Linked DNA regions of Homo sapiens. The protein of the gene in region 6 purifies or fractionates together with the protein of the main gene of each other region. This does not show direct contact. Each region holds a gene or a part of one and is shown on either strand. Other genes may lie near its edges.

Region 1 (3,500 bases), on a different chromosome or scaffold from region 6:
GGTGTTGGGCCTCAGGAGCAGCACAGCAGAGGACAGAGGAAGGGTGTCCTGCAGAGCGGGGGGACAGGGACAGACCAACAGATCTTCACCCCAGACAGCACCTCCCACCTCCACAAGGCCCAGGGCACGGGACCCGATGGGAGGAACTGAGGCACACCCCCAAACGTGTGTGCAAACCATGACCCAGGGACCCACTAAGAGGCCAGGAATCGCCAAACCTGAGAGGGAAAGGGGATGTGACAGATGGGGAAACTGAGGACTACAGCCAGCCAGGACTGGGAAGTCACAGTGCCTGTGGGGCCCGGGACTCCGACCCAGGTCTGGCTGGATGACTTGACAATTTTGGTGACATCGGGGGAGGGACTTCCCTGCAAACCGCCCCGACACAGATTTGTTAATAAGACGAGCACAAAAACAAAAGGAAAGGAGGAACTGCTCCAAGAGCCTGGGGGCCATCCGGCGGCCCTGCGGGGTGCCACAGAGTTGGCCTCGGGAGGAAGCTGGCCCGGGACCACCCCTGGCATCCAACAGCTCAGAAGATGCCCCCGCTCCACCTCTCCAACCTAAGCAGTGCCACCTGAGGGTCTCCTTGACCATCCCCTCACCGGACAGCCAACGCCAGCCAGAACATGCCGCCCAGGACCCATGTGTGCCCACGCTCTGGGCCGCACGTGTGCCCACGCGCTGGGCCCCGCCCCCACTCCTGCCTTGGCCTTGCCATGCTTCTGTCCAGGCCACTCACTCCCTGTTGTCCATCTCGGGTGTCCACGCACAAGCCCGGGCCCCACTGTTTGTCCAACACCTGCCCGCGCCCCCACCCGACGCCGTGGCCTACCTTCCCGCTTCATGCCCATGGCCAGGCACTTCTGGTAGCGGCAGTACTGGCACCGGTTCCGCTGCCGCTTGTCAATCAGGCAGTCCTTGTTGTCGCGGCAGGTGTAGGTCAGGTCCTTGCGCACCGTCCGCTTGAAGAAGCCCTTGCACCCCTCGCAGCTGTACACTCCATAGTGCTTGCCTGCGGGACAGGGCAGAGCAGGGCTGGGGAGCACCCACCGCCCCGGCAGGGAGCCCACCCCCCATCCAACGCCGCCACTACCAGCTGGCGGGCCAGGCCTCAGAAAGGGACCTGCTGGTCTCCAGACCCCTGCCTGGGCTCAGACTGGGCCCCAGCCTCACTCTCTCTGCTCCTCCGAGGACAGCTTAGGAGTGGGGCAGGGACAAATCCCAGCCCACCAGGGACCAGGGCCCCAGGCAAGTCACCTGCTCTGTGTCTGCACTGTGCAGCCCGTTCTTCCCTCTCAGGCCGTTGGGGGTCAGTGGCACAACACGGGCCCCTTGCCCAGACCCAGCCAAGGGAGGAGGCGCAGCACTGGCTGCCCCCATGCTGACCTTGCCATCAGCAGCCACCTCCTCTCCGGAAGCCTCAGGCTGCCCTGTGCCCCACCCCACCCAACACTCACTGTCCCACAGACGTGAGAACCCTGGAATGGCCTCGCGGAGCCCTGGGAGTGGGGCATGGCCCAGGCACCTGCCTCCCTGCACCCTGGCCTTGGGTCCTGCTTGGCCCACAGGAGGGTGATTTGGGGAGGCCTCCAGACCCTGCAATGGCCTGACAACCCTGTCCCACCAGCCCCTGGCCCCCACAGCAGCGGTACCTGAGGAGCGGTCCCCGCAGATGGCGCAGATGTGCTTGGTGAAGGAAGCCATGTTTCCTGAGGGGTGGGCGGGGACCTTGAGGACGCCATTGAGGCCCAGGGGGGGCTTGATGTCCTCGCTGCTGCTGACGGGGTTCATAGGTGAGCTGAGCTGGGGGGGGCAACCACAGCAGTCAGCGGGGTGTACACCAGGTTTGTCCCTATGTCCCCCACGGCCCTGCAGCAAGGATGGCGCAGCTGTACCCCCAACTTCACACACAGACACCGAGGCTAGAGAGGGCCGTGCCCCCCACCCGCCACGCTGCTCCGGAGCAGCGGGGCCACTGTGCTTGCTCAGCAAGGCCAGCAGAGGCTGTGGCAACCTCAGGACTCGCCCGCAGCAGACCCCAGGCCTCTGTGGAAAAGGACCTTCAACACCCCCCCCAACACATGGGCGGTCCCTGCTTGCAACCCCCTGCCCGCTGCCCACCTAAATGAGAGCTGCCTCTCATTACTGAGCCCCTGGCAGTGCCCAGCCCCGCTGGGTGCCCCCGGACACTCCATGAGGCAGGCACTCTGGGGGGTCCCAACCCACACATGAGGACGCCGAAGCCCAGTTCCCAGGACGGAGGAGGGCTGGGGACCCCCCCAAGAACCACACATACACCCCACAACACCGCAGGGCAGGGGCCCTGGTCACGTGACCCAGGAGAGGGGAGTGGACACCCCCGGGCATCGGGTGGCACGACACCACTGGCCTCTCTGCACACCCCTCCGCCCCACCCGCCGGCCCGCACGCTGCCGCCCGGGCAAGCGTGGGAAACTCACCCGGTCACCCTGGCAACAGCTGCAGCGTGCAGTGACACAGCAGTTTTGGTTCCGCTGCCTCCACCCAGCTCTGCAGTCAGCGCCGAGGACCCACAGGCGCTTCCCGCTGCAGCCTGCCAGCCAGCCTGGCTGCGCAGGGCGGTAAGCGCTTGGCCAGGCAGCCCCCAGCCTCCACTTCTGCAAACCCCTGCCGCCGCTTGTGCGCAGGAAGCTCCCCTCCTTCCTTCCTCAGGCCTCCAAATCCCATCCCCCCTTCTCACGGGACAGGAAGAGTTTGAGGCTCAATGCAAGCAAAGCAGAAACCACCGCAAAGCCTCCTTTCACATGGACCTCGGTGCCTGGAATGAGTCTTCCAGCCCCAGCTTGTTCTGGCTTCTAGGTTCTTCCTCGATCTGCCCAGGTGGGCTGTGAGGCTTTACAAGGATGCTTGGTCCCTGCAGGACTCAGGTGGGCTGCGAGAGGCCAGGAGGTCCCCCGTGACAACTCAGCACAGTGGGGGTGCCATGAAGCTCCCACTGGAGAAGCGGGTGGCCACTGTGTGACTCACCAAATGCCCAGTGTTCATGTCCACAGGCAGCAGGTGCGCTTCTCAGAGAAGGGAGGGAACTGAAGGGGCAAGAGAAAGCCCCAGACGTCTGCAGAGGGGTGCGGTGCCTGGGCTTTGCACCCACACTTGACACTCCCTGCATGGGAAACCCTGGGTGTCCCAGATGCAGAGGCTGCGGCTCAGGGAGGTCAGGGGCTGGCCAAGGTCACACATGATCCCCCACGCTGCAGAAGGCGAAAGTGAAGCCCCTGGAGGGACAGAGCTCGTCCAAACTAAGTGCCCAGCTGGCCCTGCCCCGTGCTGGGCTCCGGGAGGCACCAGGGGACAAGGCCCTGCCCAGCCCTCCAGGGCTCGCTGGTCTAGTGGCTGTCTCGCTTGGAGGCACTGGAGGCCCCAGAGGCGGATCCCTGGCTCCGGATTCTGCCTGCCTCCTACGTTCTCGTGTGACATTCGGAAAATGATTTAATCACTGTGAGCCTGAGTTTCCTCGT
Region 2 (3,500 bases), on a different chromosome or scaffold from region 6:
CTGAGCCAGGTTTTGTTTCTTTGTTTTTTTGTTTGATTTTTAAAAAATTAATTATTATTATTTTTTTAGACAGGGTCTTACTCTGTTGCCTAGGCTGAAGTACAGTGGCATGAACATGGCTCACTGTAGCCTCAACCTCCTGGCCTCAAGTGATCTTCCTGCCTCAGCCTTCCAAGTAGCTGGGTCCACAAGTATGCACTACCATGCCCAGCTAATGTTTAAATTATATGTATAGACATGGTCTCACCACGTTGCCTAGGCTGGTCTTGAACTCCTGGGTTTAAGTGATTCTCCCACCTTAGCCTCCCAAAGTGCTGGGATTACAGGTGTGAGCCACCATGCCCCGCCTTTGTTTTTAATTATGGATTTGTTGCCAACATTTAAAAACTAGAAAGGCCAGGTGCACTGGCTTACACCTGTAATCCCTGCACTTTGGGAAGCCGAGGTGGGCGGATCACTTGAGATCAGGAGTTTAAGACCAGCCTGGCCAACATGGCAAAACCCCATCTCTTCTAAAAATACAAAAACTAGGCCGGGCGTGGTAGCTCACTCCTGTAATCCCAGCACTTTGGGAGGCCGAGGTGGGTGGATCACTTGAGGTCAGGAGTTCAAGACCAGCTTGGGCAACATAGCAAGACCCTGTCTCCCCCAAAAATTAAGAAGCAAAAAATCCCCACACAAAACAAAAGAAACAAAACTATGAAGCCTGTAAACCCAGTCCAGCCTGTGTGCCACCTGATTTGGCTGTACCCCAGCACTGGGGCTCAGCAGTGAAGGTGATGCTGGTCCAGCCATGGCACTCCCTGCCTTGAAGGGTTGCTCCTGCTGCTTGGCAAATTGTGACAGCCCTTGGGGAGTCTGGCCTGGGGACATGGGGTCTTCGATCCCAGCTCAAGAAACCCAAAGCCCCCTGGACTGGGGCATATAGGGGGAGTTTATCTCCAAGAGGTTTGGCTACCCTGTGGATCCTGAGTTGTAGGAGGGGACAGGAATGGTCTGGGCAGGTCCCTGGCCCATGAAGGAAGAAAGAGCCCTCTTGGGCCGGGCGCGGTGGCTCACGCCTGTAATCCCAGCACTTTGGGAGGCCAAGGCGGGCGGATCACCTGAGGTCGGGAGTTCCAGACCAGCCTGACCAACATGGAGAAACCCCGTCTCTACTAAAAACACAAAATTAGACATGCGTGGTGGCACATGCCTGTAATCCCAGCTACTAGGGAGGCTGAGGCAGCAGAATCGCTTGAACCCGAGAGGTGGAGGTTGCGGTGAGCTGAGATTGTGCCATTGCACTCCAGCCTGGGCAACAAGAGCGAAACTCTGTCTCAAAAAAAAAAAAAAAAAAAAAAGAGCGAGCCCTCTTGGCCTGAGTCCCTGGCAGCAATGGAGCCTCATCCAGCGTGTCACTGGCACCCTGGGCAGGTGAGACTCCCCTGCCACAGGGTGGCAGGAGCAGGTGGACGTGTCCTTGGGAGGCCAGCCAGGGGCACGGCCAGTATCCAGGGACTCAAGCAGCTGCCATGTGCTGCTTTGTCTTGGGAACCCAATGCGGTGCCCACGCAGCCCCCCGGGCTGCACCCTCGACCCTGTGGCGCAGCCTCACCCGGTTGCCCTGCGCGGTGCCATCCTGTGTGCGGTAGGAGACCTGGGACTTCCCGCCGTCCAGGACACGCCGGATGACAGGGATGCGGGCCACCTGGTCCCCGCGGCTGACCGAGAACTCAGGCTGCTCAAAGGACACCACGTCTCTGGCTGCAAGGAGCCCGGGCATTTGTCAGAGTGTGCTGGGCCCAGTCCCTTCCCACCTCCTGCTCTCCTGTGACCCTGCCCAGCCCAGCCCAGAATCCAGGAGTCCGCTTGGTTCCCTCTATGCATTGCCCTCTGGGAAGGGCACAGGAGCGAAACGGAAAATCCTTCCAGAAAAAGATGAGGGGCCGGGCGCAGTGGCTTGTGCCTGTAATCCCAGCACTTTGGGAGGCTGAGGCAGGTGGATCACCTGAGGTCAGGAGTTCGAGACCAGCCTGGCCAACATGGCGAAACCCCATCTCTACTAAAGATAGAAAAATTAGCTGGGCGTGGTGGCGAGTGCCTGTAATCCCAGCTACTCGGGAGGCTGAGGCAGGAGAATCACTTCAACCTGGGAGGCAGCGGTTGCAGTGAGCCAAGATGGTGCCATTGCACTCCAGCCTGGGTGGCAGAGCAAGACTCTGTCCCAAGAAAAAAAAAAGTGGTTCTGGAACAAAGTGTCCAGCAGACATCCTGGAAGGGCCAGGCAGAGGAGGGAGGCCAGTCACGGGCAGGACCAGAGATGGAGCCTTCAGCCCCAGGGCTGGAGGAGAGCAGGAACAGGCCTGAGGCCTGTGGCTTCCGGCACAGGTGGGAGGAGGGGTCAGATGTCCACGGTGTGATGCCTTGGCCAACCCTTTTTCTAGATAGAGAGGAGCAAGGGGCTGGCCCTTATGAGGATGCAACAGAAGCTTCCATTTACTGAGCGCTCACCACCAGGCAGGCACTGTGGCGAGGTGAACAGCCACGCATTCCGTAAAAGAGCCCTTACCCATTTTACAGATGGAGAAACCAAGGCTTGCAGAGGTTAAGTGACTAGCCCAGGCCACGTGGCCAGGTCGCAATTCCACTTAAGCAGGAGGAACCAGTGCCCCCGAGCCCCCGTCTGCCTTCCCCACTCTCCCCACCCAGACCCACCTTGCTCCTTGATGATGGTGATGTTTACCAGGCGGCGGCCGAGGGTGGCAGTGCCTGCGGGCACGTCGATGGCCTCCACCAGCAGCTGCTTCTCGTCGTCATCCTCAGGCCGGATAAAGAGGGGCACCCGTACGTCCACCAGCTCCACGCCCTCCTGGAACTCCACCATGCCCCGGGCGTCTGGGTGGGGGTTCGGAGGTGGTCAGAGGTGGGTCACAGGGCCACACAGGCGGGAGGTGCGAGGCAGTGGCACAGCGGACCCGCCCTCCTACCCTGGTCTGCAGTGAGGGTGTAGTAGCCGGGGGCCACCTTGAGGTCGTGGAAGGCCCTCTGTTCCACCTGCTTCTCTGTAAGCTTCAGCAGGGCCGGCTTGGCCGAGCGGGGCGCCATCAGCACTGTGTCCACAATGGTGTGGTCTTGCCTGGGTCGAGGGTGGAAGGTTCAGGCAGCGGAGGGGTCAGGCTGGCACCTGCTGCCCTGTCCCTCCTGCCTGTCTTCTCCCCTTCAGGGGCCAGGATGTAAGACAGCAAGAAGTGCAGGGTCTTCAGAGGCAGGCAGTGCTCCAGGCCTATGCCAGCCCCATACCCTTTACCCTGCAGCCTCAGCCCAGCCATGGCGCCTCCCTGTCCTCAGCGTCCTCCTCTGTGAAATGGGCTTCTCTGCCCACCTCATCAAGGGCTGGACAGCAAAGATGCTAAGGGTGTGTGTGCTCAGGCCAGGCTGCCGCGGCCCTAGCCCTGGTTCTAGTTCTCGATAGCTGGGTAACCTTGGGCAAGTCACTTAACCCTTTTGAGCCTCAGCTT
Region 3 (3,500 bases), on a different chromosome or scaffold from region 6:
AGTTGGAGTTGTCAGTCACCTGAACCAGCTTAGAAGCTTCTCTGCTCTAATTAGAATGTGACTGTTGCTGGTTGTGTGACGAGTGCAGAATCCAAGACGTGGGGCCCTAGAGTATTAATTAGTGAAGACAAGAACTTGCAGAAAAGACTGGCTAATAACAACAGAACCAACACAACATGAGTGTTCGGGTTTATATTAAAATATGCACTGGAGACTGGTCCCCTGTGGTGTCCATAAAGGAATAGCTTTAATCATATGGGAAGAAAAGGTTAGAGCTCCAAAACACACACATCTGTTTGAAGCTGGGGTTTTTTTCCCTCCCACCAAATAATATTTACTGTGCAAAGGCAGCAAGGCCACAGTGTGTTTTGAATGTGAAAGAGGCTAGAAAATGAAGCACATTTCATTTTGTAGCGTACCCCACTTGTAAGCACTTTAAAAATTCAGTTTTTGAGCTATGCTAAAACCTCATAATTAGTGTTCCAGACGTGTACTGGGGAAACCAAGACATTTGTGTGCTTTTCAGTTATTAACATGCTAAAGTGGTTCTTCTTTTGATTTGTTTTCTTAAAATATGATAGAAAAACACAATAGCACTTATGGATATGTCTATTTTGTGTGGTCATCATCAGTAATCCTTTTTAGGTCAATCTTTAATTGACCTTGCATAGTACCATTATCTGTGGTCCTTTTTAGTTCATCTTTACATGCTCTTATAAGCCAAAATTCCATTTTAGAACTTAGAATTTGCTGAAGAGGAAATGACAAAGTTAAATAGCACAACTTGCCCCTTTCTATTGTTTTTTAAATATTGAAGTTTCTTATGTTGAAGTTTTTGTGTCTTTTTTTTAATCTTAAAGAGCTTGATACATATTAAGTGAATTCTTAGGTTTTGCTTATCTCTTACCATCCTCATAGATGAGCATGGTAAGGATCAAGGTATAAATATTCGACAGAAGGTGAAGGAATTGGTTGAATTTGCCCAGGATGACGACAGGCTTCGTGAAGAGCGAAAGAAAGCAAAGAAGAACAAAGACAAGTATGTTGGGGTTTCCTCAGACAGTGTTGGAGGATTCAGATACAGTGAGTATCAAAGACAAGCTGACACCTAAGCATCAGCTTAGCTTCTTGAGTATATTTTAAGAATCAGTGAAATACCAAAGACCAAAATGCTAATTTTCTTTTCTAGGAATACATAGAATACTAAAATACACGCAGTACTAATCTTGACTTCTACTATCACATGAATCTTCCTATTTTTAACTTGTGGGTTCGGCAATAGGATTTTAACCATTAATGGCTAATTAAATGACTGCATATTTTGAGGTGTCATACAGAGATTAAAACAGATATATGCCCTTCCCTCTTAGGATTGCCATTTTAAAAAGAAGGGGGAAGAAAGTTTCTATAACTCAGAGTTTAGAGTATAAAAATAAAAAGTTTGATCAGGAGATCCATCTTTCTAATTTGAAACCAATTTAGCTGTATTTTTGGCCCAAACCAGATAAGCTTCCTGACAGTCATTCCAGCCTCAGTCTCTCTTTCTTTATTTAAGCATTGCATACTTTGACATATAAAAGATGACTGACGATACTCGCAGTTTTTCATCTAGGCCTATTGTTTTGTTTATTCTTCCCAGTACACTTAAGAGCAGCTAGAACATTCATCTTTCATGTTTATTTTTAATATAATAATATAGTTTCTCTAAAATAGGGCATAGGTGCTTGAAGCAGATACACAAAATAGGAACTGTCTTTCACGGCATGTCCCTTTGGACTTGTTCTGTCTTCTGTGAGCTCTGACAATCTCTTGCTCATTTTGTGTATGTGCAGACTGGCCAGTGCTGTGTATCTTAGCAGCTGTTCACTGAGGCTCTCCAGCTCCCCCCACCCATATATGTTTATATTTGGATTATATTGAGCTCTCATATCTCCTTCAATGGAACCATGTAAAAATCTTAACATATAAAATATCCTTACTCATTTATTCCTCTGCTTTCCCACTCTCAAAGAAAAAACACTGCGTTTAGTTAGCTGTTTAAGGATGTTTCTAACAGCAGAAAAATTCCCTTTTTTATATTGAAGCATCAAATACAAGTTAGTTTTTTCTTTTTCTTTTTTTTAAATAGGGCTAACTCATAGGCAGTGCAACCAGAGTCGGCCACAAGTTAGTTTTTGAATTGGGCAAAAATATTTCTCCTAAAGCATATAAATAATGTTTTGAAGTTTCTATTTGGGGAAGTCCAAAGTTTTTGGATTATTTACCCAAGTAGTAACTTTATTCTTCAGGTTTTTCAAAGTAGTTGTAGCAACTTAATGTGTTTTTAATAGAAATTGCTATTTGAAACTTATTTCCACACTATTCTTGCTTGTATCTTTCTTTTTGCCAGCATGATATATAATTATATCAGCTAAACTTAGAAAATTGAATACGTTTTCAAACTCAGTCACAATGCACTAACTGCAGCATCTGTATTAAAGATAGAGTTGGATATCCTGTGTGTTTGCATCACATCCTTTTGCTAAGTTATTGTTCATGGTTTATGTTATTCAGACTTAACTAATCACTCTTAGCAGTTTTGTGTTTTTTCTTTTTCTTTTCTTTTTTTTTTTTTTTGAGGATTCTTGCTCTGTCATCCAGGCTGGAGTGCAGTGTTACCATCTCAGCTCACTGCAACCTCCGCCTCCCGGGTTCAAGTGATTCTCCTGCCTCATCCTCCCAAGAAGCTGGGACCACAGGCGTGAGCCACCATGCCTCGCCAATTTTTGTATTTTTAGGGTTTCGCCATGTTGGCCAGGCTGGTCTTGAACTCCTGACCTCAAGTGATCCAGCCACCTTGGCCTCCCAAAGTGCTGGGATTACAGGCATGAGCCACCGCACCCGGCCAGTTTTGTGTTTTTTCATTCTGACATTAGATAATGTCTTGCCAATATCCAGTATCTTTAGCAGTAATTCAGTATGATGTTCACCATGCCATGCTAATCAGTTTGGTTTTCATCCACTTCCATTTTTCGTGTAAATTTGTTTCTTTCCGAAGTCTGGTTCATCACACTGTTGTTGAAATGTACATACACATTGTTGGAAAATCACTTTTTTTAAAAAAACCATCCTGGTTTAAATTTTGTCTAGAAAACTTCATTTTGTCATGTTTTCTTTAAGTTGATGGTCATTTCCAGATTCAGTAAATATGTTAAAATCCTTAAACATGTAACAGAAAATTTTAGCCTTGCAATTTTAGGAGGCAATTCAGCAAAATCGTTTTGTTCAATCTCCAAAGGCTATGTATCCTTTTAGATCCTGTAAACAAAAGTTCAAAACAAAAGCTCCATTAGCCACTTTTTAGTTATTTTGTTGTTTCTCATTGTCCTTTTCATTTTCTTCCAACCTGCCTTAATTTTTAATGTTTTCTTTTTTAAAAATACCTCACGTGCTCTCTGTACCTTCTACTGTTGCTTCTTAAGTTGGATTTGGACATGGAAATGGAAGGGTTTCATTTTGTG
Region 4 (3,500 bases), on a different chromosome or scaffold from region 6:
ATTCTCATGCCTCAGCCTCCTGAGTAGCTGGGACTACAGGCACGCACCACTATGCCCAGCTAATTTTTGTATTTTTAGTAGAGATAGGGTTTCACCATGTTGGCCTGGCTGGTCTTGAACTCCTGACCTCAAGTGATCCACCCGCATTGGCCTCCCAAAGTGCTGGGATTACACAGACTGACTTCTTGAGATACATCTTGTAATTATATTGATGATTACAATTGATTTGTAACACAATACCTTTATTTCAGTGGTAGCCTGGATAACCAGGTGCCTTATTTTCCTTATAATGATCTAATATGTAACACTTGTAGGAATTTGTAGAGTACTTTTCTTGACTTTTTTCTTTGAGTTAATTTTAATAACATTAATTGCCTTGTTTAAGTCAGTCACCTCTTATTGTACTCCAGTATTTTTAAAGTATCAACCTGATACTTTAAACCTGGTAGGAGCACACATTTCAGAATCTAAAGGACCTTGTTTGAATCACTTCACTGAAACACAGATTGCTATTCACCTGTCATTTGCCACTTTTCCATCAGGTTTGCCTTAAATAAATGTATTTCATTTAACTACTTTTCTGTATCCTTTTTTTTTTTTTTTTTTTTTTTTGAGACAGAGTTTAGCTCTTGTTGCCCAGGCTGGAGTAGTTCAGTGACACGATTTCAGTTCACTGCGACGTCCCCCTCCTGGGTTCAAGCGATTCTCCTGCCTCAGCCTCCCGAGTAGCTGGGGTTACAGGTGCTTGCCACCACGCCTGGCAATATTTTGTATTTTTAGTAGAGACAGGGTTTCACCATGTTAGTCAGGCTGGTCTCAAACTCCTGACCTCAGGTGATCCACCTGCCTCGGCCTCCCAAAGTGCTGGAATTACAGGTGGGAGCCACCACACCTGGCCTGTATCCTGATTTTTTAACTTTTTTTTTGAGACAGAGTCTTGCACTGTCGCCCAGGCTGGAGTGCAGTGGCGTGATCTCGGCTCACTGCAAGCTCTGCCTCCTGGGTTCACGCCATTCTCCTGCCTCAGCCTCCCCAGCAGCTGGGACTACAGGTGCCTGCCACCACGCCCGGCTAATTTTTTTTGTATTTTTAGTAGAGACGGGGTTTGGTCTTGATCTCCTGACCTCGTGATCCGCCTGCCTCGGCCTCCCAAAGTGCTGAGGATTACAGGTGTGAGCCACCACACCCGGCCCTGATTTTTTAACTTTATGTATGGGACTCAACCTGTGAAATTATTCTTGACAAGGAGAGGGTGAGTCAGAATCATGTGTTATCAGCTTTCATTTATATGCATCCTTTGGTACAGGTGAGAGGTAGATGATTTGTTTTTCTGACATTTTATTATGAAAAATTATAAGCATTTAGAAAATTATAAGAATTTTACATTGAACACCCATAGTTTTCTTCCATTAACATTTTCTGTGCTTACAGTACCACATATGTGCTCATTCGTTTATCCATCAGTGCAGACGTGTGTATACTTCCCCTAAATACTGGTTTGTTTTTGAAAGTTTGTTCCTGGCTTATACCCTCCTGTATTCTCAGTTGACAGATCTTTACATAAAGAGTCTGCTTTTTTCTCATTTTTGTGCATCTTAGCACTTTAGTGGTATTGTAATGGAATATTACATCTAGTATGTACAGTGAGAGAGGAGCTCTTGAATTTTTGGTATTTTCTGAAGTTTAAAAAAAAACACCTAAGATTACATAGTGAATAGGGAAGTAAAACCCAAGGTTTTTGGCTATTATCTTTTATCTCTTGTTTACTTCTCCTGACCTTACTAAAACAAGTTCTTTTCCAAACCAAATTTATTTATCATTTTAGTACCATGGACCTACTATAAGAATTGTTACATATCAGTGATTAAAAGTATATGCTCAAAAATACATATACTTAAAATCTAAAATATTTAATTCAGTTTTATTGTCATTAAAAGGGTTTTTGGAGAATTATAGCAGTAATATATGTTATAAATATATATGCTCATGTAAGAGTGAGAAAAGAATATAAAATATGGCAAAAATTGAATTTTATAAAAACTTTCCTAGAAGAAGGATTGGGAGGACCTATAAACAGTTCTCTCTGGGCTGTATGGCAATGTGGATGGGTTGTTTTTTTTTTAATTTTGCTTTAGTGTATTTAAATTTATTCAGTAAACCTAAATTTTTAATCAGAAAAGACATTAAAAATTCAGCAAAGAAACCTGTTTTGTAGCTTGTATTTACATTACTCTGAAATTAAAAATTAGAACCCATTTAAGGGATGTTGTGTAGATCGTCATTTGGTTCAAGATTTGAAAATAAAAATACATTTTATTAGATACTTAATTCTGAACCGAAATCAGTGAACCAAGCAGGGTGGCTAAAAAGCACAGATGGATCAGTAAAAATTGAAGCAATTTTTCATGTATTGAAATGACTATACATATTTTTTCATGTATTATCTCAATTATCATCTGCTATAACCAAAGAGAATCTAGTATTTTCATTTATTCAACAGGAGGGATTCTTAGATTTTGTGGATAATTGGGCTGAGTAACTTAGTTATCCACCAACACAGAGGTTCTGTGATTCTGTTCAGGCCAGCAAAGGTTTTTTGAATGATCCTACTCTAGGGATGTGTGTTTTTGGGGAGAGGGGGTGATGCAAATTAAAATAGTCTTCTTTGTAGGTCAGAATATAGCTACTATGTATAGAATACTTATTATGTATGCTATAGGTACTATGCTAAATTATTTACATACATTATTTTATTCTGTTATCACCCTATGAAGTAGGTTTTTTTTGTGGTCTTTCTTTTGCCAGGTATGGAAACAAAGATGAAGCAGGTTAAATTACTCACCTAAGGTCACATAGGTAGTGATTATAAAGCTTGATTATTGCTCTCTGGAATTTTAGTTTATGATGGTTAAAACTGAGGAATGGAATAGTATTGAATAATGGAAAGACCACCGGAAGTAGAGTCAAAAAGCTTAGTTTGTCTCTGCAACTCACTTGCTGGTTAACCTTAGACAAGTTAATTGACCTCTCTGAACTTCTTGTTTATTCTGTGAAATGTCTTATTTATGACATCTTTATCTTCCTCATAGGAAATTCTGAGACTCAAACATGATAATATATGTGAATATGTGTTATGAATTGCTAAATGCTAGACTAGTTGGGGTTGTCAGGACAGTGGAAGGGGAAGAAAAGGGAGACTGTTTCCTAACTCTTAACAGTCACTGTTACTTTATTTGAAGTTGGATTGAGAAGAATGGGAGTAATTGGACTTACTTGCACATTTGTATTACAATTGTTAAACTCCTAAGGATACTGATCAAAATTAATTTTCAATTTTTTATCTTTATTTGAAAAATGGCCACAATAGTTAATTGAATATTCTGGTTAGCCTATTATCTTAAGGTATGTAAAAATTATCAATATGCAAGTACAAAACATATTTGTTAAATATTACATAGAAGCTGTTTTTTCCCTCATATTTCAGAAGTTAAGGACCTGAA
Region 5 (3,500 bases), on a different chromosome or scaffold from region 6:
AGCCACATGGGCCAGTCACGTGTAACCCCAGTACTTCAAGGTGGGAGGATCGCTTGAGGCCAGGAGTTCCAGACCAGCCCAGGCAACACAGCAAGACCCTACCTCTACAAAAAAAAAAAATTAAACATTAGCCTTGCGTGGTGTTGCACGCCTGTCGTCCCAGCTACTCAGGAGGCCAAGACAGGAGGATCGCTTGAGCCCAGGAATTCGAGGTTACAAGTGAGCTCTGATCGCGCCAATGCAGACCAGGCTGGGCAACACAGCGAGACCCTGTCACTAAAATAAATAAATTGACAAATAAGCCATAGGATAGCTGTGCACGGTAGAGATTATCAAGACGGCTCAGAAACAAATCGGGTGCTTTCTGTGCATTGACATGGCAGGGCTGTGTTCAAAGAGCCATCCCAGGAGTCGAAGCATCTATAAATAACACATCTCACACCTAATGATGAAGGAACTAACAAGCCCAAAGGAAGAAAGCGAGGGCATCACACATAGTGAAACCAATTCTGGGAAGACAACACCTGAAGCTTTCAGAGAACAAGATTTTCATGTATCAAGGAAGCTGCTAAAAACTCCTTGAAGCGACGGCATGTTACAATCTGGAATATTTTTTCACACAGAGAAAAACAAAGCCAGGCTTTCGAAATCCCGAGATTTGCTTCCGAAAAGGCACTTAACTTTGCTCAACAGTTTTTTGGAGCTCTTTTTGTTTTGGCTTTCAGAGTGGCTGTTCTAGACTGGATTTCTTTTTTCATTGGAGCTGGTAACTGAAATTTAAAAGCTTTAAAAAAAAAAAACTTCAAATTGCTCTTCCCTGGCGCGATCTGCCTGAAGTCCTTCAATTTGCACTTGTGGCACAAAATGCATGGGGCGGGACTGTGAGAACTTGTGCACAAAGGGCTTTTTGGGGACAGCAGAACCCTAATGTAACTTTCGCAATCTTCTTTTCATACTTCGGAAGTGTTTGACATCTTGGCTTCCAAAAACCAGTGAACACAACAGCCTCGGTGCGTCAGAAATAATACAATGAATCTACCGTGAAGGACAGATAGGTCCCGCCTCCCTGCTGGAAGAAAACGTGCCCTTATGATAGAGCATCCAAACTGCGGCTCTTTTTTTTTTTATTGAGAAACTGTTTTTCTTACAGAAGTGGCAGTGTAGAATAAATAACGCGAGGGACAGAGAGTGTGAGGTACCAAGAGGCTAAAGAAGCTGGGAGGTTTGCCTTTAAAAGGAGACAAAAATCCCAGGGAAGCTGCAAGCGGAAGGGAGTGGGGTGGCCCGGAGGCGGAGGACTCAACTTACAGAGGTGAAGTCTGCAAAGCCCGAGGCAGAGGCCTTAGAAGGTTTAGCTGCAGAGGAGGGGACAAATGGGTCTTTTCCACTAAACGGGTCCCCAAACCCCTTTTTACTTTGGAACGGGTCGCCGCTGTCAGCCCCGAGTGGCTGGAATGGATCGGGGGCCTCGGGAAAGTCTGCGGAACCAAGCTGGCTTACAGGTGTACTTTTACCTGGAAAGTTTAGGAGAAAAAAAAAAGGAGAAAGAAAGAAATATGAGTTACTCACCCGGACAGAGCAGAATGCTGGTGGGCACAAGCCCGGGGCGCTTCTCTGAGAAAAGCTTGTAACTTGGCTAACAGGCTGGACGGGGGTACCCTGGGGAATCCCAGTTTTAATCAGCTTTATCCCAGGGGCTTAACGGGTTGTGAACAACACAGGAAAAACACTTCAGATGACTCCCATACACAACGCACACAGAGCAGCTAAAACTTGAGTTGTCCTAGAATAGTTTGCATGCAGGTACGTTTCAAACAGATTCATTTTAGCATGGCAACACATTTATTAACATACTAATTTAAAAAATCATGGCTGAGCAGAAAAATACACTGCAAGCTTCTAACAGTAAAAAAAAAAAAAGGCAGAGGGGAGAGTTACTTGCAAATGAAAAGGAGGAATTAGTTTCACAACGTGGTATGGTTATTCGGTGTGTTAGTTATAAGGGTCTGCACACAGCTCTGCCATGCTGAGGTTTAAGTTCTTTTTTTTTTTTTTTTTTTTTTTTTTTTCAGAGACAGAGTCTTGCTCTGTCACCTGGGCTGAAATGCAGTGGTGCAATCATGGCTTATTGCGGCCTTGGCCTCCAGGGCTCAAGCGATCCTCCCACCTCAGCCTCCTACAGGCATGAGCCACCATGCGTGGCTAATTTTTGTATTTTTAGTAGAGATGGGATTTTGCCATGTTGCCCAGGCTAGCCTCAAACTCCTGCCCTCAAGTCATCTGCCCGCCTCAGCCTCCCAAAGTGCTGGGATTACAGGCATGAGCCACTGCACCTGGCCTTAAGTTCTTTTTTAGCCCCCACTTCTGTCCCTCTGGTGTTGGTGGCTCCAAGGGGCAGCGTTTATCTGGGCCTTTCTGGGCTTCTGCCAAGCAGGGAACTCCAGGATGCCCGGTCCCAGCAAGGTATATCTTGACAGGGAGGTGAGAGAGAAGTGTTCAGAAATGGAGGAAAATGACACTGTGTGGGGGACATGGCCTGAGGATGGTAGCTTTTCCCAGTGCATCCTGCCAATGTACCAGAACATTCCACCAAGAAGCAGAGGCCTGTTAAGATCTGCTTGGTGACGGGAGGTCCCACCTGACGGGCCTTCCAGCATCTGCAGTTTGCAGGCCAGCCGGGCTGACTCCATGCTCCTGACACCCCTCTATCTGCCCAACGGAGTCCCTGGGCATTCAACGTGGTCCACGCAGCACCCCAGACTGGAAGCTCAATAATATGCAACACGATTCCGGCGTGTTAACTCTGGAAGTTTCGAAGCTAATGTTTAGAAAAAACCAGGAACTGCCTGTCCCTCCAGGGTTGACCTTGGATCTCTGGCTGCACCTCCAGAGAGCACCCTGGCTCCCAGCCACACCTGCCCCGCCCACCACCTGAGCCTGGGACACCTGCCTTCCTCATCCGGTAGAACGAGCCCACACAGGCCAGCCTCGGTCCCTCTCCATGCCCAGATCTAAAGCCTTTCCCTCTGTTCCCCCAGCAGATCAGCCATCCCAGGCCTCATTTTTGAGGCCCCAGGTGTCCTTGTGGGCTCCGGGGCTACAGCCCCCATCTGCCACCTTTAGCTCTGGGCCTCGGCAAGGGAAAGTGCCTCCTCCCAGCTGGCCTCCGTTTCCTTATCTGTGAAGTGGAAATGAGAAGGAGGGCGCCAAACAAGGTGACATTCCTGGGGTCCAGGAGTCTCCTCCCACTCAGTGTCCTGCACCGCCGTGCCCAGCATAGGCCAGTGAGAACCTGGCCCGTAGCCCCCCCTTGCCTGTAGCCCTACTTCTGGAAATGGAAATTCACTTTTCTCTCAACCGGCAGTTCTGGGCCAGCATAAGGACTGCTGCTTTCTTTTTGCATATTCAAGGAAAAACAGTCTTCCTTCCCACGGTTTGCACAGAAGGACTCGGAGACAAACTCCCCTGCAGCCCACCCTTGCGGCCTGCCTGTCCGCCTC
Region 6 (3,500 bases):
CAATCAATCATGACATGGCCTACATTTAAGCTGACTTTTATACTCTCCCCACCGGGGAAACTCTGGAAACCAAGGTGTATCACAAGGCCTTGAAGCCTTACCTGGTAAGGCCCAGTTACCCCCAGCTTTTCCTGTGTCTACAGTTTGCCAGGACTCCTAGGAATTCAGGCACATGGGAGAATACATTCCTGAATCAGGATTTTATCATCAACATTGCCTGTGAGACATAGGCAATTTCAAAGTTATAGTGAAATGCAAACAACTTTTAATACTCATCTCTGTCAAAAGGAGGATCTTTGATTTATTTATTTATTTATTTATTTATTTATTTATTTATTTATTTTTTTTTTGAGACGGAGTTTCGCTCTGTCGCCCAGGCTGGAGCGCAGTGGCGCGATCTCGACTCACTGCAAGCTCCGCCTCCCGGGTTCATGCCATTCTCCTGCCTCAGCCTCCCGAGTAGCTGGGACTACAGGCGCGCGCCACCATGCCCAGCTAATTTTTGTATTTTTAGTAGAGACGGGGTTTCACCGTGTCAGCCAGGATGGTCTCGATCTCCTGACCTCATGATCCGCCCGTCTCGGCCTCCCAAAGTGCTGGGATTACAGGCGTGAGCCACCGCGCCCGGCCGGATCTTTGATTTATGAAGACTCATTGTTTATCATCAAAGTTACCAGTAGTCACTAAAAAAAAAAAAAAAACTTTTGCTATTTGCAGTGTCAGGCATTTTGTGCCACAAGCTGAAGGCAACTGGTTCCCTTTTTCACCCACAGGATTAAAAAATTCCAGGAATGAGAGAAAACTAAGTTAGGCTATTATGAGACCTATGGCAATAATCCCCTAGATGTGAAGCTAGTCTTGTTTTGTTTTTTTTTTTTAAAAACACAAAAACAAAAAAACAAGATTATACTTTTTCTTTAGCCCTCATTTAAAATAAAGAGTAAAATAAATATTGCTTTTCCCCGCTTTTCTTTCCCTTAAGACAAAAAGAAAAGAGTGAACAGATTAATGACTTCTTACTCATTTAGCAATGGAAAATAGACCAAGAATTCAGGAACATCCACAACACCTTCCAAGTTGAAGTCATATTTGCAGCCAAATAAAGGATAATCTCCTTTCTTCTGAAATTTCACAGTATATATTTCATTTCCAAATGATTCTGTTTCTGAAGCTTCAAGGCGTCTTCTATCAAGGTTATCCCCCAACCAAAATAAAAAGATTAAAATTGTGATTAGTGTAGACTTATTTTGATCAGATTATGCATGTGAAAAACTACATGATGCACACTTGATTAGCCTTTTAATTATATCTGGGCTACCTTTTTTTTTTTTTTTTAAAGTGACAAGGTCTTAATCTGTCATTCAGGCTGGAGTGTGGTGGTGTGATCATAGCTCACTACAGCCACCAACTCCTGGGCTCAAGTGATCCTCCTGCCTCAGCCTCCTGAGCAAGGACTACAGGGGCGTGCCACCATGCTGGCTAATTTGTAAATTTTTTGTAAAGACAAGGTCTCACTATGTTGTCCAGGCTGGTCTCAAACTCCTGGCCTCAAGCAATCCTCCTGCCTTGGCCTCCCAAAGTGCTAGGATTATAGGCATGAGCCACTGCACTCTCCTGATTTGAGCTACTTTTAAGAAGCAATATACTAAAAGATCACCAACAGTCACACCAATAAAATTAAGCTGGAAGTAGGTATCACTCTCATGACAGCTGGTTCATCTCTGTGCCTGTGTATCTGACCTGCAGTTTGTCTATCACTATAACTTCAGTCTCTAACTTACACACAAAGATGAACTGTTAAAAGTTCACCTGTAAATTTGTCTATTGAATTTAAATTTTGAATGTCTACTCAAATATCTTATGAAAGTGTTCAACACTTATAAGATTAAAATAGCGTATTTTAATAAAATCTACCTCTGATAAACATTTGCTACTTAATACTGAATATTTTATAAACCACAATATATTTAGAAGTACTTACATCAATTCAAAGCTATTGGGAGTAGTACCAATAAAATAGCCCCCAGGGCTAAGTCTCTCACACGCATTTCTCAGCATCATGTCAGCCTGCTCATAAGACTCAAATGAGTAATGACAGACAAACTGACAACTGCAGATGTCAAAACACATTTGTGGGTCACGAAATTTGTCAATCAGAAGTTCCTGAAACAAATTAAAATGAGTTAAGATTGTGAGGTAACTACAACAAAGATTAAAAACTTTTTAGTAAATTAACTTCTAGAATGTAAGGTTCTTCCTTTCCCTCACAATCTTTCCCTTGTACAATAAAGGACACACAGAAATCATGCATGTATTCTAGTTTAACAGAATAATTTGATTCCCACTTTCACAGTATTTAAAAACTGAGGAATTCTGAAATCATGTTTAAAATATATTAGTCAATTATGACATTTCAACTTGATCCTTTCATCACTTTACTTGACAGCTAAAATAAAATGACATTCAACAATAACTTGAGTTAAAAAACATCTGGCGTTTGGCATTTTTTAAAAAATGCAAAAATGTTTTAAAGGTATTACAACTTTCTGGCAGTATACTCCCACTTATCTTTTTCACTTTCAAATTTCAAACAAAATGTGTATGATTAAAGGTATCTATAACAGTTCAGTGAGTCAATAAGTCAATGAAGAACAAAAAGTTCATGGTGAGACTTTCACCCTTGAAGCAGTTCTTTTTAAGAAATTCAGAAACAGGTGGAAGGTAGGAAAAAACCAAACAGGCTCTGATATGTTGGGAAACTAATAAATTACAAGGTGAACAAAACATAGTATAAGTTCAGTTCTATTTCAAAATACTGGAAAATAAATGATGTCCATACCGAAAAGCAACAGCTAATTTCAATTCAAATTATTAAAAGCAAAAAATTACAAGTATTCAGTGAGTCATTCAAGGGAATTTATCATAATAGAATTTCCAGTCAAAAGTGAAAATGCATATTCCAAGATTTTTAAAGTTTCAAAACACATTTTAAAAAATGAGTAGCCGGGCACCATGGCTCATGCCTGTAATCCCAGCACTATGGGAGGCAGGCAGATCACCTGGGCTCAGGAGTTTGAGGCCAGCCTTGGCAACATGGCAAAACCCCATCTTTACAAAATATATAAAAATTAGCTGGGTGTGGTGGCATGTGCCTGTAGTCCCAGCTACTCAGGAGGCTGGGAGGCAGGAGAATCACTTGAGCCTGGGAGGCAGAGGTTGCAGTAAGCTGAGATCGTGCCACTGTGCTCCAGCCTAGGTGACAGAGTAAGACCCTGTCTCAAAAAATAAGAGTAAATTTTTTTAAAAAAGTAAAAATTGAGTTGATTTTTAAAACAAATTATTTACCCAAACTAAAAATGTAAAAAATAAATTGACCAAAGAAAGAAACTGTACCTTTGAGCTGTCAGCAGTTATAAATTCTGCACTGAAAATATATTCACTATCACGACGATTTTTCATGTCCTCATACCGCTGCTGACACTGTTTGACAGAAACATCGG
Region 7 (3,500 bases), on a different chromosome or scaffold from region 6:
AATTAGCCAGACATGGTGGTTTGCACCTGTAGTCCCAGCTACTCAGGAAGCTGACGTGGGAGAATCGCTTGAGTCTGGGAGTTCAGGGCCCAAGTGACCTAAGATCGTGCCACTGCACTCCAGTGAGACGCCTGTCTTTTTTATTTATTTATTTATTTATTTTGAGACGGAGTCTCGCTCTTGTTGCCCAGGCTGGAGTGCAATGGCGCGACCTTGGCTCACTGCAACCTCTGCCTCCCGGGTTCAAGTGATTCTCCTGCCTTAGCCTCCCGAGTAGCTGGGATTACAGGCGCCTGTCACCATACCTGGCTAATTTTTTGTGTTTTTAGTAGAGATGGGGTTTCGCCATGTTGGCCAGGCTGATCTCAAACTCCTGACCTCAGATGATCCACCCACCTCGGCCTCCCAAAGTGCTGGGATTACAGGCGTGAGCCACCACACCAGGCTGAGACCCCCATCTCTTAAAAAAAAAAGTAATAAAAATCACAGTAGCCCCAGCACTTTGGGAGGCCGAGGCAGGCGGATCACGAGGTCAGGACATTGAGACCATCCTGGCTAACACAGTGAACCCCCGTCTCTACTAAAAAAAAAAATACAAAAAATTAGTTGGGCATGGTGGCGGGTGCCTGTAGTCCCAGCTATTCAGGAGGCTGAGGCAGGAGAATGGCGTGAACCCGGGAGGTAGAGTTTGCAGTGAGCTGAGATCGCATCACTGCACTCTAGCCTGGGTGACAGAGCGAGACTCTGTCTCAAAAAAAAAAAAAAAAAAAAAAAATCCAATAGCAATATAAGTTGTAATGATAACAATCATCGCATCATTAATAACAATGTAGTCCTTTGAGAGCTGGGGGGAGGAAAACAGCTTTCTGTGCTAGGAAGGGATCACCCCTGTCCGAAATGCCCAGCCCAGCCTGGTCAAGGCAGGGAGATGGAAAGGCAGTTTTGCTTCTCTTTCTCTTCTTGTTCCTTGTATTTATTCCACCTTGAGGCTGAGAAACTAGGTCCCAGATGTTTTTAATTTGTTTTATTTTATTTTTTATTTTTTTAGAGACAGGGTCTTACTCTATCCCCCAGGCTGGAGTGCAGTGGCACAATCACAGCTCACTGCAGCCTCGACCTCTGAGGCTCAAGTGATCCTCCCACCTCAGCCTCCTAAGTAGCTAGGACTACAGGTGTGCGCCACAGCAACTATGCCCAACTAATTATTTTTGTAATTTTTAGTAGAGACGGGGTTTCGACATGTTGGTCAGGCTGCTCTCAAACACTTGGGCTCAAGTGATCTCTCCACCTCGGCCTCCCAAGTAGCTGGGACTACAGACGCGCACCACAAAAATTATGCCCAGCTAATTTTTGTAATTTTCGTAAAGATAGGGTTTTGCCTGCCGGCCACAGTGGCTCACACCTGTAATCCCAGCACTTTGGGAGGCAGAGGCAGGTGGACCACCTGAGGTCAGGAGTTCAAGACCAGCCTGGCCAACATGGTGAAACCCCATCTCTACTAAAAATACAAAAATTAGCTGGGCATGATAGTGTGTGGCTGTAATAGTGTGTGCCTGTAATCCCAGCTACTCGGGAGGCTGAGGCAGGAGAATCTCTTGAACCTGGGAGGCGGAGGTTGCAGTGAGCCGAGATTGTGCCACTGCACTCCAGCCTGGGTGACAAGAGTGAAACTCTGTCTCAAAAAAAAAAAAAAAAAAAAGGAGATGGGGTTTCGCCATGTTGCCCAGGCTGGGATTGAACTGGGCTCAAGTGATCCACCCACCTCAGCCTCCCAAAGTTCTGGGATTACAGGCGTTAGCCATAGTCCCCAGCTGAGATCCCAAATGCTATGCAGACTCAGTTTCCCTTGCTGGAAAATGGGAAGAATGGGAGGGGCCTCCCCACACCCAGACAGGGAGCTGGGGGCCTCCCACTGCCCCACATTTCTCTTCAAGGGGCTGCTGTTATTTTCGTGGGGAAGTCAGATGAGTGCAGGTTCCAGTCCACCTCTGTCCCCCATGGCCGGGTTCCCCCTCAAGGCCTCAGTTTCCTCATCTGTAGCATGGGTGTTGTGACTGCCCTCAGACACCAATTTGTCATGATTTGGGAGTAGGTTGAAGTCCCAGCTCTGGCCCAGTCTCAGCGCCTTCCCAGCCCTCGGATTTTCCATCTCCAGGGTGGGTCTGCAGGGAACGGGGTGGCCCCTCTCCCCAGTTCTGAACCTTTGTGGCTGAGCGTCTGCTTCTCTGGTCTGTTTCTGTATCAGCACAGTGGGTTCATGGAAAGGGGAAAGGAGGGAGAGGACTCCACCCGGGATTTCTCCTCCCTCTGATTAATCCTGGTGCACTTGAATCTCTTATCTTTTGATGCAGAAATCCCCCCACCCTTCCAGCAGCCCTCAACCTCCAGGCGGGCCTAGTGTCTGCCTGTGGATCTCAGCCAGGCCTGTCTGTACATATGCTCTGTAGGAACAAGCTTTCGTAGTCATTTTTTGTTTTTTTGTTTTTTGTTTTCCCAAGATGGAGTCTCGCCCTGTCACCCAGGCTGGAGTACAGTGGAGTGACCTTGGCTCACTGCAACCTCCACCTCCCAGGTTCAAGCAATTCTCCTGCCTCAGCCTCCCAAGTAGCTGGGATTACAGTCATGCGCCACCACGCCTGGCTAATTTTTGTATTTTTAGTAGAGACAGAGTTTCACCATGTTAGCCAGGCTGGTCTTGAACTCCTGACTTCTTGATCTGCCCGCCTCGGTCTCCCAAAGTGCTAGGATTACAGGCATGAACCACCGCGCCCAGCCGGGTTTTTTTTTTTTGAGACGGAGTCTCACTCTGTCGCCCAGGCTGGAATGTAGTGGCGAGCTCTCGGCTCACTGCAACCTCTGCCTCCTGGGTTCTCCTGCCTCAGCCTCCTGAGTAGCCGGGACTACAGGCGTGTGCCACCATGCCCAGCTAATTTTTGTATTTTTAGTAAAGATGGGGTTTCACTATGTTGGCCAGGCTGGTGTCAAGCTCTTGACCTCAAGCGATCCACCTGCCTCAGCCTCCCAAAGTGCTGGGATTACAGGCGTGAGCCACTGCGCCCAGCCTCATTTTTCATTTTTTTTTATTTCTTTCTTTTTTTTTTTTTTTTTTTTTTTGAGTCAGGAGTCAGGGGTCTCACTACGTTGTCACCCGGGCTGGAGATCAATGGCGCAACCTTGGCTCACTGCAGCCTTGACCTCCTGGGCTCAATTGATCTTCCCACCTCAGCCTCCCAAGTAGTTGGGACTGCAGGTATGCATCACCTAGCTAAGTTTTGATTTTGTAGAAACGGGGCCTCGCTATGTCATCCAGGCTGGTCTTGAACTCCTGGGCTCAAGCAGTCCACCCACTGTGGCCTCCCAAAGTGCTGGGATTACAGGTGTGAGCCACCATGCTTGGCCGCCGACCCTAGTTTTTTTTTGTTTTGTTTTGTTTTTTGAGATGGAGTCTTGCTCTGTCGCCCAGGCTGGAGTGCAGTGGCGCAATCTCGGCTCACTGCAAG

Evidence for each region.
Region 1: the proteins of RNMT (region 6) and RXRA fractionate together in Homo sapiens (co-fractionation; one large-scale study listed by BioGRID). This does not show direct contact.
Region 2: the proteins of RNMT (region 6) and ITGB4 fractionate together in Homo sapiens (co-fractionation; one large-scale study listed by BioGRID). This does not show direct contact.
Region 3: the proteins of RNMT (region 6) and CLINT1 fractionate together in Homo sapiens (co-fractionation; one large-scale study listed by BioGRID). This does not show direct contact.
Region 4: the proteins of RNMT (region 6) and DLD fractionate together in Homo sapiens (co-fractionation; one large-scale study listed by BioGRID). This does not show direct contact.
Region 5: the proteins of RNMT (region 6) and EPS15L1 fractionate together in Homo sapiens (co-fractionation; one large-scale study listed by BioGRID). This does not show direct contact.
Region 7: the proteins of RNMT (region 6) and NFIC fractionate together in Homo sapiens (co-fractionation; one large-scale study listed by BioGRID). This does not show direct contact.

What each region holds. Positions count from the first base shown.
Region 1 is NC_000009.12:134,406,455-134,409,954, reverse strand, and holds part of RXRA (retinoic acid receptor RXR-alpha), read right to left. Parts: intron 3,396-3,500; exon of another isoform or gene 2,463-3,395; intron 1,807-2,462; coding exon 1,656-1,806; intron 1,016-1,655; coding exon 836-1,015; intron 1-835. UniProt on the Homo sapiens protein: Receptor for retinoic acid that acts as a transcription factor.
Region 2 is NC_000017.11:75,741,959-75,745,458, reverse strand, and holds part of ITGB4 (integrin beta-4 isoform 1 precursor), read right to left. Parts: intron 3,119-3,500; coding exon 2,970-3,118; intron 2,878-2,969; coding exon 2,698-2,877; intron 1,747-2,697; coding exon 1,598-1,746; intron 1-1,597. UniProt on the Homo sapiens protein: Integrin alpha-6/beta-4 is a receptor for laminin. Plays a critical structural role in the hemidesmosome of epithelial cells. Is required for the regulation of keratinocyte polarity and motility.
Region 3 is NC_000005.10:157,810,646-157,814,145, reverse strand, and holds part of CLINT1 (clathrin interactor 1), read left to right. Parts: intron 1-918; coding exon 919-1,083; intron 1,084-3,500. UniProt on the Homo sapiens protein: Binds to membranes enriched in phosphatidylinositol 4,5-bisphosphate (PtdIns(4,5)P2). May have a role in transport via clathrin-coated vesicles from the trans-Golgi network to endosomes. Stimulates clathrin assembly.
Region 4 is NC_000007.14:107,897,683-107,901,182, forward strand, and holds part of DLD (dihydrolipoyl dehydrogenase, mitochondrial isoform 1 precursor), read left to right. Parts: intron 1-3,500. UniProt on the Homo sapiens protein: Lipoamide dehydrogenase is a component of the glycine cleavage system as well as an E3 component of three alpha-ketoacid dehydrogenase complexes (pyruvate-, alpha-ketoglutarate-, and branched-chain amino acid-dehydrogenase complex).
Region 5 is NC_000019.10:16,360,471-16,363,970, forward strand, and holds part of EPS15L1 (epidermal growth factor receptor substrate 15-like 1), read right to left. Parts: intron 1,515-3,500; coding exon 1,309-1,514; coding exon of another isoform or gene 1,300-1,308; exon of another isoform or gene 1,108-1,299; intron 1-1,107.
Region 6 is NC_000018.10:13,740,173-13,743,672, reverse strand, and holds part of RNMT (mRNA cap guanine-N(7) methyltransferase), read right to left. Parts: coding exon 3,394-3,500; intron 2,164-3,393; coding exon 1,982-2,163; intron 1,186-1,981; coding exon 1,021-1,185; intron 1-1,020. UniProt on the Homo sapiens protein: Catalytic subunit of the mRNA-capping methyltransferase RNMT:RAMAC complex that methylates the N7 position of the added guanosine to the 5'-cap structure of mRNAs. Binds RNA containing 5'-terminal GpppC.
Region 7 is NC_000019.10:3,376,583-3,380,082, forward strand, and holds part of NFIC (nuclear factor 1 C-type), read left to right. Parts: intron 1-3,500.